Linked DNA regions of Homo sapiens. The protein of the gene in region 2 purifies or fractionates together with the protein of the main gene of each other region. This does not show direct contact. Each region holds a gene or a part of one and is shown on either strand. Other genes may lie near its edges.

Region 1 (3,514 bases), 6.3 Mb from region 2:
GCATGGTAGTAACAGCTAACAGGCAGATTGGCTCTGGTGCTGTGGTGTTTTGTTTGTTTTTTCCTTAAGAGTCTCATTGTTGCTAGGGCTGGAGTGCTGTGGTGCAATCATGGCTAACTGCAGCCTCAACCTCCCAAGCTCAAGTGATCCTCCTGCCTCAGCCTCCTGAGTAGCTGGGACTACAGACATGTGCCATCACATCCAGCTAATTCTTGTTTTGTAGAGACGGGGTCTCACTATGTTACCCAGACCGGTACTGAACTTCTGGGCTCAAGTGATCCTCCTGCCTTGGCCTCCCCAAGTACTGGGCGTGAGCCACCAAACCCAGCCAGTGGTGCTGTGCTTTTAACCACTGTTTATTAATTGCATCTGAAAGCGGGATGTCATTGACCATATTCTTTCTCCAAACTCAAGCCATACATTGATTTAGCCGAAGCTGCCTCTAAAGCTAGGACCAAAACTTTTTAATTCTGGGAAGAAAAAAAAAAGGTTCATTTCCCAAGGACTCACACATAACAGATGTACACAAAGCTTTTTGAGTTTTATTTTTTTCCTCAGGTTGGAGATTCATCGTAACATGCATGCATTTTCAAACAGTAACAGGGTCTCAAACTTTTTAAAGCAGACGTTAGACAAGCACAGGGGATTGAAAATTCCCATTTAAAAAATGGAAACTGCAGTGGGATATGGAGAAGTCACACACTTGGTGGGGTGGTGGTTTGTCCTGCTTCCCCAAAAGGTGGATATGAACTTAATTCACATTTTTTAATTTCAATGATCTGACCTGATGCTGGGATGTGCCGAGCAGTACTGCCCCCTCCCCCAAGGGTGTTGGCTCCCACCGCCTCTCACAGTGGCTCTGCGCAAGGGCAAGAGGCTCCTGTGGAAACTTCTGCCCTGGGATACTGGCACAAGCTGCCAAGGGACAGCTGAGTCTCCTTTTCCCCATGGGGCACTCTTCATAAGTGGCACATTCTAGAGGAGGGAGAGGGCCACGGTCACTGACCCCTGCAGATGGCTGGTAGATTGGGGAACAGTTGTCTGAATGGGTTTTCCCTTTCAGGACCTCCTGCCCGCATGACTGCCAGGAAGAGATGAGGCTCCTAGACTTGGGGGGCCACAGGTTTAAGGCCAGAGCTCTGAGTGTTGTTTAAACGCACTGTCCCTTCTAGCCCCCAACACCTGAGTAACTCACATGCTGGGGTGCTGCAGTTTTCTCTCCCACCCTGAATTGGTAAAAAGACAACTGGGGGGTAGGACTGGCTACTGCAAAAAGTCCTGGGTCTTTGGTCCACCTCCCCAAGGTATGCCCTGGCAGACCATGAAGACAGGAAAGGCAGGGCAGGAGTGTAGCCTCACGCCCTGAGCGCTACCAGCAGGCCTGTTTGAGGCCAAAAGCACAGGCAAGAGAAAGAGTCAAGTAGGGAGAGGGGATAAAGAGCTGCCTGTGGTGGGAACTTAAGAGACTGCCACTGAGAACAGCCACAGGGGCCACTCGTGGCGCCTGCCACAGACCAGCAACCCCTGAGCTAAAGAAGGAGAGGTGGAGCACTGCTTCAGTCTGCGCCCCTCAGCTGTGGCTTCCCGGCATGCCCTGTGACCCCAAGCCGCAGGGTACAGGAAAGAAGTTTGTGCTGGGGGACTCAAAGACCCAGAGGTTAATTAACAGGAACCAGGGCCAGGGGCCTTCATCTAGAGGTCAGTGGAGTCTCCAGGGCACTCATCACTGTGGCTGGGAGACTACAGTGTCTCGGCTGCGGACTTGTGGAAGAAGAGGGGGAAGGATGGGAGAAGGGGTGACTGGATGCCAGCCAGGAATCCTGGCCTTAGCCCTATCCTGGCCTCGCCTAATCAGCCATGTCGTTATTCTTACACCTTTCTTCTTGGGAGACCCAACATTATTCTGAGATGCCATGAGACTGTTTAGCTTTTCTTCATGGCCCCAGGGAGTGAGGCTGAGGGCAGTCACTTCCCCTCCAATGCCCTCGACTGCCCAGTAAAAGAATGGCGGGACCCAAGGAGGAAAGAGTGGGGGCAGACAACGCTTGGGGGATCAGTCCACTTTCTCTACATTCAAACTGCAGACCAAATAGAATACCATGACAAAAAGAAGAGAAAGGAAACTTGTATAAACCAAGATAAATAGCTTTTAAACATTTGAATGCCAAAAATTGGGGGCCAAACTCAAGGTTTTGAAGATAGCACAGCGAATGACCTTTAAAAAAAAAAATTGAAAATCCACCAAACCACAGCTCAAAATGTTATGACCCAGTCAACAATACTGTCAGAAAAACAAAAAGCATTTGAAACAGAATGCTACCTCTCAAAATGTAAACAATATACAAAACACACAAACATACACACACACACACAAACTCAATGTTAAACAAGTTAGATACCTGGTAGTCGTCTTTAACCAGTAAGAATGTGTTACACTTTCCATACACATTATGGCAACATGATCAGCAGACCAAATGCAGAGAAGCCGGTAGGAACCCGAGGCCACGGAGGCTGCTGGAAGACAGCTTTCCAAGCTTCAGAGATGCTGCGCCTGACGAGGAGCAGATCCAAACTTCCATTCTTCATTATGACGTGGGGAAATCAAGTCCAAACATTATTCCTACATAATCCCTTTCCCAAGTCAAATTTGTTTTCTCCATGAGCCAGTTGGTTTCAAGTTCCCTAAGTCATGTAGTGGTCTTGCGGCAGTTGTTCAGACCTACCTATGGCCCCTTCCTGGGGCCAAGGCAGTGGTTTGACCCCCATCTGCCTCTTCCAGAAGGTTTCCCATCCAATCCAGCAGCCCCAGTGAAGTCCAAGAATGCCGTCTCCATTCTTTCCTGACCTATATGCTGTGAGTCAGGCACAGAGACAGTGCTGGTTCCTGCTTCGGAAGCTGGGCTTGGCCAGGTTTGGAGGGAGCCACAGGAAACCAATCTATTCATTCAAAATGGTTTCACAAGCGATCTTCACATCTTTGGGGTTATCTACAAGTCTGACCATATCTCATCCCAAATCCCCAGTTCCTGGTTGAGGGGGTGAGAAGATGCAGGAATGTACCTCCCCCAATGCAGAACAACAGAGCTGTTTCTCTCCTGGCCAGAGCAGCCTGTGGCTCAGTTCTGAGGGCCTGGGTGGCAGGCTCCGAAGGCAGGTGGAACACCTGCAGGAAGCCACTCCTTCCAAAAAAGCCTGTGGGCTGCAGATCTGCTAAAAGTCTAGAGCGGGGCAACAAGGAAAAACAGCCCCAAGGCTGAGGCCAGGTCAAAACCCACATCAAGCCTCCAAACTGGATTTCCTGGATCACATCCTCATGTAACTAGGAAGCCACCTCACGTTTGGACACCACACTCTAAGATGGGGGCACCTTGCTGGCTGTAACTCTCCAGGCACAGGGAGACAGATCTCCTACAAGGTCATCCCGGAGCTTAACGAGGTGTCTCTGCTAAAAAGCACTCCAGGCGCTTGGAGATCTGCCCAGAGCTAAGAGTTCGGCTAGAAGTAAGAGTGCCTG
Region 2 (3,648 bases):
CAGCCCCTCACAAGGCGGTGGTTGAATAACTGACTGACTGGCTGCCACAGGGGCGAGAAGGCCTAACCCTTCATCCTCCACGTTGGCCCCCACAGCAGCTGAAGGGCCGGGTCCTGGTGAAGGGAAAGAAGTTGCCCGCTGCTCGGAGCGAGGATGGCCGGGCTCTGTCGGATCGGGAGGAGGAGGAGGAGGATGACGAGGAGGAAGAAGAGGAGGTGGAGGCTGCAGCGCAGAGGCGGCTGGTGAGAGCTGGGATGGGTGGGGTGGGGAAGGGGGGGAAGGTGGGAGGACGGATGTGGGAAGCGGGGGCCAGCTGAACCCCGCTGAGCCTGGTCTCCTAGGCCAAGCAGATCTCCCCGGAGCTGTCGGCCCTGGCTGTGTACTGCCACGCCACCCGCCTGCGGACCCTGCACCCTGCCCCCAACGCCCCACAACCCTGCCAGGTCAGCTCCCTCAGCGAGCGCAAAGCCAAGAAACTCATTCGGGAGGCAGGTAGGAGCTGGGGCACTGGGTGTCTGGGGGCGAGAGGGTGAGAGACCTCCTGAAGGGAGTCTGGAAAGGAGTTGAGGGGGCTTTGGGGGACAGTAAAGAGGTCAAGAGGACCCCAAAGAGGGGCTGGGCTGAGGGAATGAGGGCCCCGCACATGCCAGGGTGGATGGAGGGGAGTGGCACGCTGAGGGCGGCCTGCTGTCTGCCTTCAGAGCCCTGTGGTGGGGCCGGCCATAGAGGGTGATGGGTCAGGCTGGGCTGGGGGCTGGGGGAGCCCAGCAGCTGCTGCAACACTGGGGAGGAATTCCTGGGGCAGGTGATGCTGAGAGGACACATCACCTGGAGGACTAGGAAGCAGCCAGGTGAAGAGGGGAGAGCGCTTTCCAGACAGGAGGAACAGGTTGTTGAAGGCCTGGGGCCTTGGCCTGGAGAAGAATTCCAGGAACCACAGTGGAGCTGGAGGGCCGTGGGCATTCAGTGTACTTGGTTGGAACTTTGTCAGGAGCTGGGAATTGGGGGCTGGGGATGCAGGGCCAGGCTGTGTGGCTGGAGGGGGTCCCTGCAGCCTCCTCAGTGAGCTCCCCTCTCACTCTAGGTCAGAAGAGAGTGAGGAGCGGGGGCAGGGTGACCTGGGGACGGGCTTGGGCTCTGTTCCCTGGAGGTTACAGGCCGGGGCTTTGGGTGAGGGACCCCCGGAGTCTGTCACGGTCTCACCCCAACTCTGCCCCAGGGAACAGCTTTGTCAGGCACAATGCCCGCCAGCTGACCCGCGTGTACCCGCTGGGGCTGCGGATGAACTCAGCCAACTACAGTCCCCAGGAGATGTGGAACTCGGGCTGTCAGCTGGGTAAGTGGGGGCCACAGGAATGAGAGCAGGCGGGGTGCCACAGTGTGGGGGAGGCCTCAGCAGTGAGGGGCCCACACAGCCTTCCAGACGGTGGAAACACGCATTTTGTTGATTATTTTTAAAGTTGCCAGCAATGTAGGTGGGAAAATCAAATCAGGCTCGTTTGTTCTTGACAGTGTACAGGTCTCGCATTTTTATCATGGTAGAAATTAAAATCTCCACTCCCATGTCCCCCGGACACACACAACCCCCACACACCTGGCAGTCCCACTAAGTCAACACTGACAAGGGTGGGCTCTGGGGGACGCTGAGCCCCACCAAAGGAGGGCTGTATCGTCTCCTTGGGGTAAGGATGGAAACCCCAGGCTTCCTCAGACCCCTGGCTCTGACCCAAGCCTGGCCCTGAGGGTGGGGGCTTTTTTAGTACCTCCCACCCCAGTCTTGAGGGATCCCAGGGCAGAAGTACAGGTGACAGTGGGGGCTGGGTCCATGACCCCCTCCCCTAAAGTCATGGTGGGAGCAGAGCAGCACTAAGCAGACAGTGGGACCCCAGGCCCTTTGTAGAGAGGAATGCAGTCCCCTGAAACTGAGTAGTGAGAACAGGGCCGCTAAGAGCCCCTGCTCTGACCCTGCTGTGTCCACAGTGGCCTTGAACTTCCAGACGCCAGGCTACGAGATGGACCTCAATGCCGGGCGCTTCCTAGTCAATGGGCAGTGTGGCTACGTCCTAAAACCTGCCTGCCTGCGGCAACCTGACTCGACCTTTGACCCCGAGTACCCAGGACCTCCCAGAACCACTCTCAGCATCCAGGTCAGCAGGCTGGAACGGGCCCCAGTGTGGGGTCAGACTGGTTCTAGAAAGGCTCTTTGTGAGGTGGAGGAAGGCAAGGGAGGCTGGGGACATTTGGAAGTGAGGGTGGTGTGAGCTTGAGGCCCATGAGGGGATGGCCAAGGTGGGCGTGGGCCCCAGCCACTCCCTCCCTCACCCACAGGTGCTGACTGCACAGCAGCTGCCCAAGCTGAATGCCGAGAAGCCACACTCCATTGTGGACCCCCTGGTGCGCATTGAGATCCATGGGGTGCCCGCAGACTGTGCCCGGCAGGAGACTGACTACGTGCTCAACAATGGTGGGCAGCCACTGGCGGAAGTGGGGTTGGGGGAGACTGCAGAGAGCGAAGGGTGGTGCAGGGTGGGTCCTGGGGCCCCTGGGCTCTGACTGCCATCCCTGTGCCCTAGGCTTCAACCCCCGCTGGGGGCAGACCCTGCAGTTCCAGCTGCGGGCTCCGGAGCTGGCACTGGTCCGGTTTGTGGTGGAAGATTATGACGCCACCTCCCCCAATGACTTTGTGGGCCAGTTTACACTGCCTCTTAGCAGCCTAAAGCAAGGTTGGTGGAGGCTGGTGGGGATGGAGAGGGATGTGGGTCCAGGTCCTGCAGACCCTGTTCACCTTTGTGCCTCGAATTTCCTGCCCTGAAGCAGGCCCGGGCTGGGCCAGACCCCCAGGGTGCACAGAGGACCTGAGGCCTGGCTGTCCTCCCTACAGGGTACCGCCACATACACCTGCTTTCCAAGGACGGGGCCTCACTGTCACCAGCCACGCTCTTCATCCAAATCCGCATCCAGCGCTCCTGAGGGCCCACCTCACTCGCCTTGGGGTTCTGCGAGTGCCAGTCCACATCCCCTGCAGAGCCCTCTCCTCCTCTGGAGTCAGGTGGTGGGAGTACCAGCCCCCCAGCCCACCCACTTGGCCCACTCAGCCCATTCACCAGGCGCTGGTCTCACCTGGGTGCTGAGGGCTGCCTGGGCCCCTCCTGAAGAACAGAAAGGTGTTCATGTGACTTCAGTGAGCTCCAACCCTGGGGCCCTGAGATGGCCCCAGCTCCTCTTGTCCTCAGCCCACCCCTCATTGTGACTTATGAGGAGCAAGCCTGTTGCTGCCAGGAGACTTGGGGAGCAGGACACTTGTGGGCCCTCAGTTCCCCTCTGTCCTCCCGTGGGCCATCCCAGCCTCCTTCCCCCAGAGGAGCGCAGTCACTCCACTTGGCCCCGACCCCGAGCTTAGCCCCTAAGCCCTCCTTTACCCCAGGCCTTCCTGGACTCCTCCCTCCAGCTCCGGAACCTGAGCTCCCCTTCCCTTCTCAAAGCAAGAAGGGAGCGCTGAGGCATGAAGCCCTGGGGAAACTGGCAGTAGGTTTTGGTTTTTATTTTTTGAGACAGGGTCTCGCTCCGTCGCCCAGGCTGGAGTGCAATGTTGCAATCATGGCTCACTGCAGCTTTGAACTCCCAGGCTCAAGCGATCCTCCCATCTCA

The links. The genes of interacting proteins can lie anywhere in the genome.
Region 1: the proteins of PLCD3 (region 2) and PIP4K2B purify together in Homo sapiens (affinity purification with mass spectrometry; one large-scale study listed by BioGRID and IntAct). This does not show direct contact.

What each region holds. Positions count from the first base shown.
Region 1 is NC_000017.11:38,765,169-38,768,682, forward strand, and holds the end of PIP4K2B (phosphatidylinositol 5-phosphate 4-kinase type-2 beta), read right to left. Parts: 3' UTR 523-3,514; downstream 1-522. UniProt on the Homo sapiens protein: Participates in the biosynthesis of phosphatidylinositol 4,5-bisphosphate. Preferentially utilizes GTP, rather than ATP, for PI(5)P phosphorylation and its activity reflects changes in direct proportion to the physiological GTP concentration.
Region 2 is NC_000017.11:45,111,938-45,115,585, reverse strand, and holds part of PLCD3 (1-phosphatidylinositol 4,5-bisphosphate phosphodiesterase delta-3), read left to right. Parts: coding exon of another isoform or gene 1-29; exon of another isoform or gene 30-77; intron 78-95; coding exon 96-242; intron 243-341; coding exon 342-492; intron 493-1,084; coding exon of another isoform or gene 1,085-1,219; coding exon 1,220-1,336; intron 1,337-1,980; coding exon 1,981-2,147; intron 2,148-2,328; coding exon 2,329-2,464; intron 2,465-2,573; coding exon 2,574-2,723; intron 2,724-2,881; coding exon 2,882-2,970; 3' UTR 2,971-3,648. UniProt on the Homo sapiens protein: Hydrolyzes the phosphatidylinositol 4,5-bisphosphate (PIP2) to generate 2 second messenger molecules diacylglycerol (DAG) and inositol 1,4,5-trisphosphate (IP3).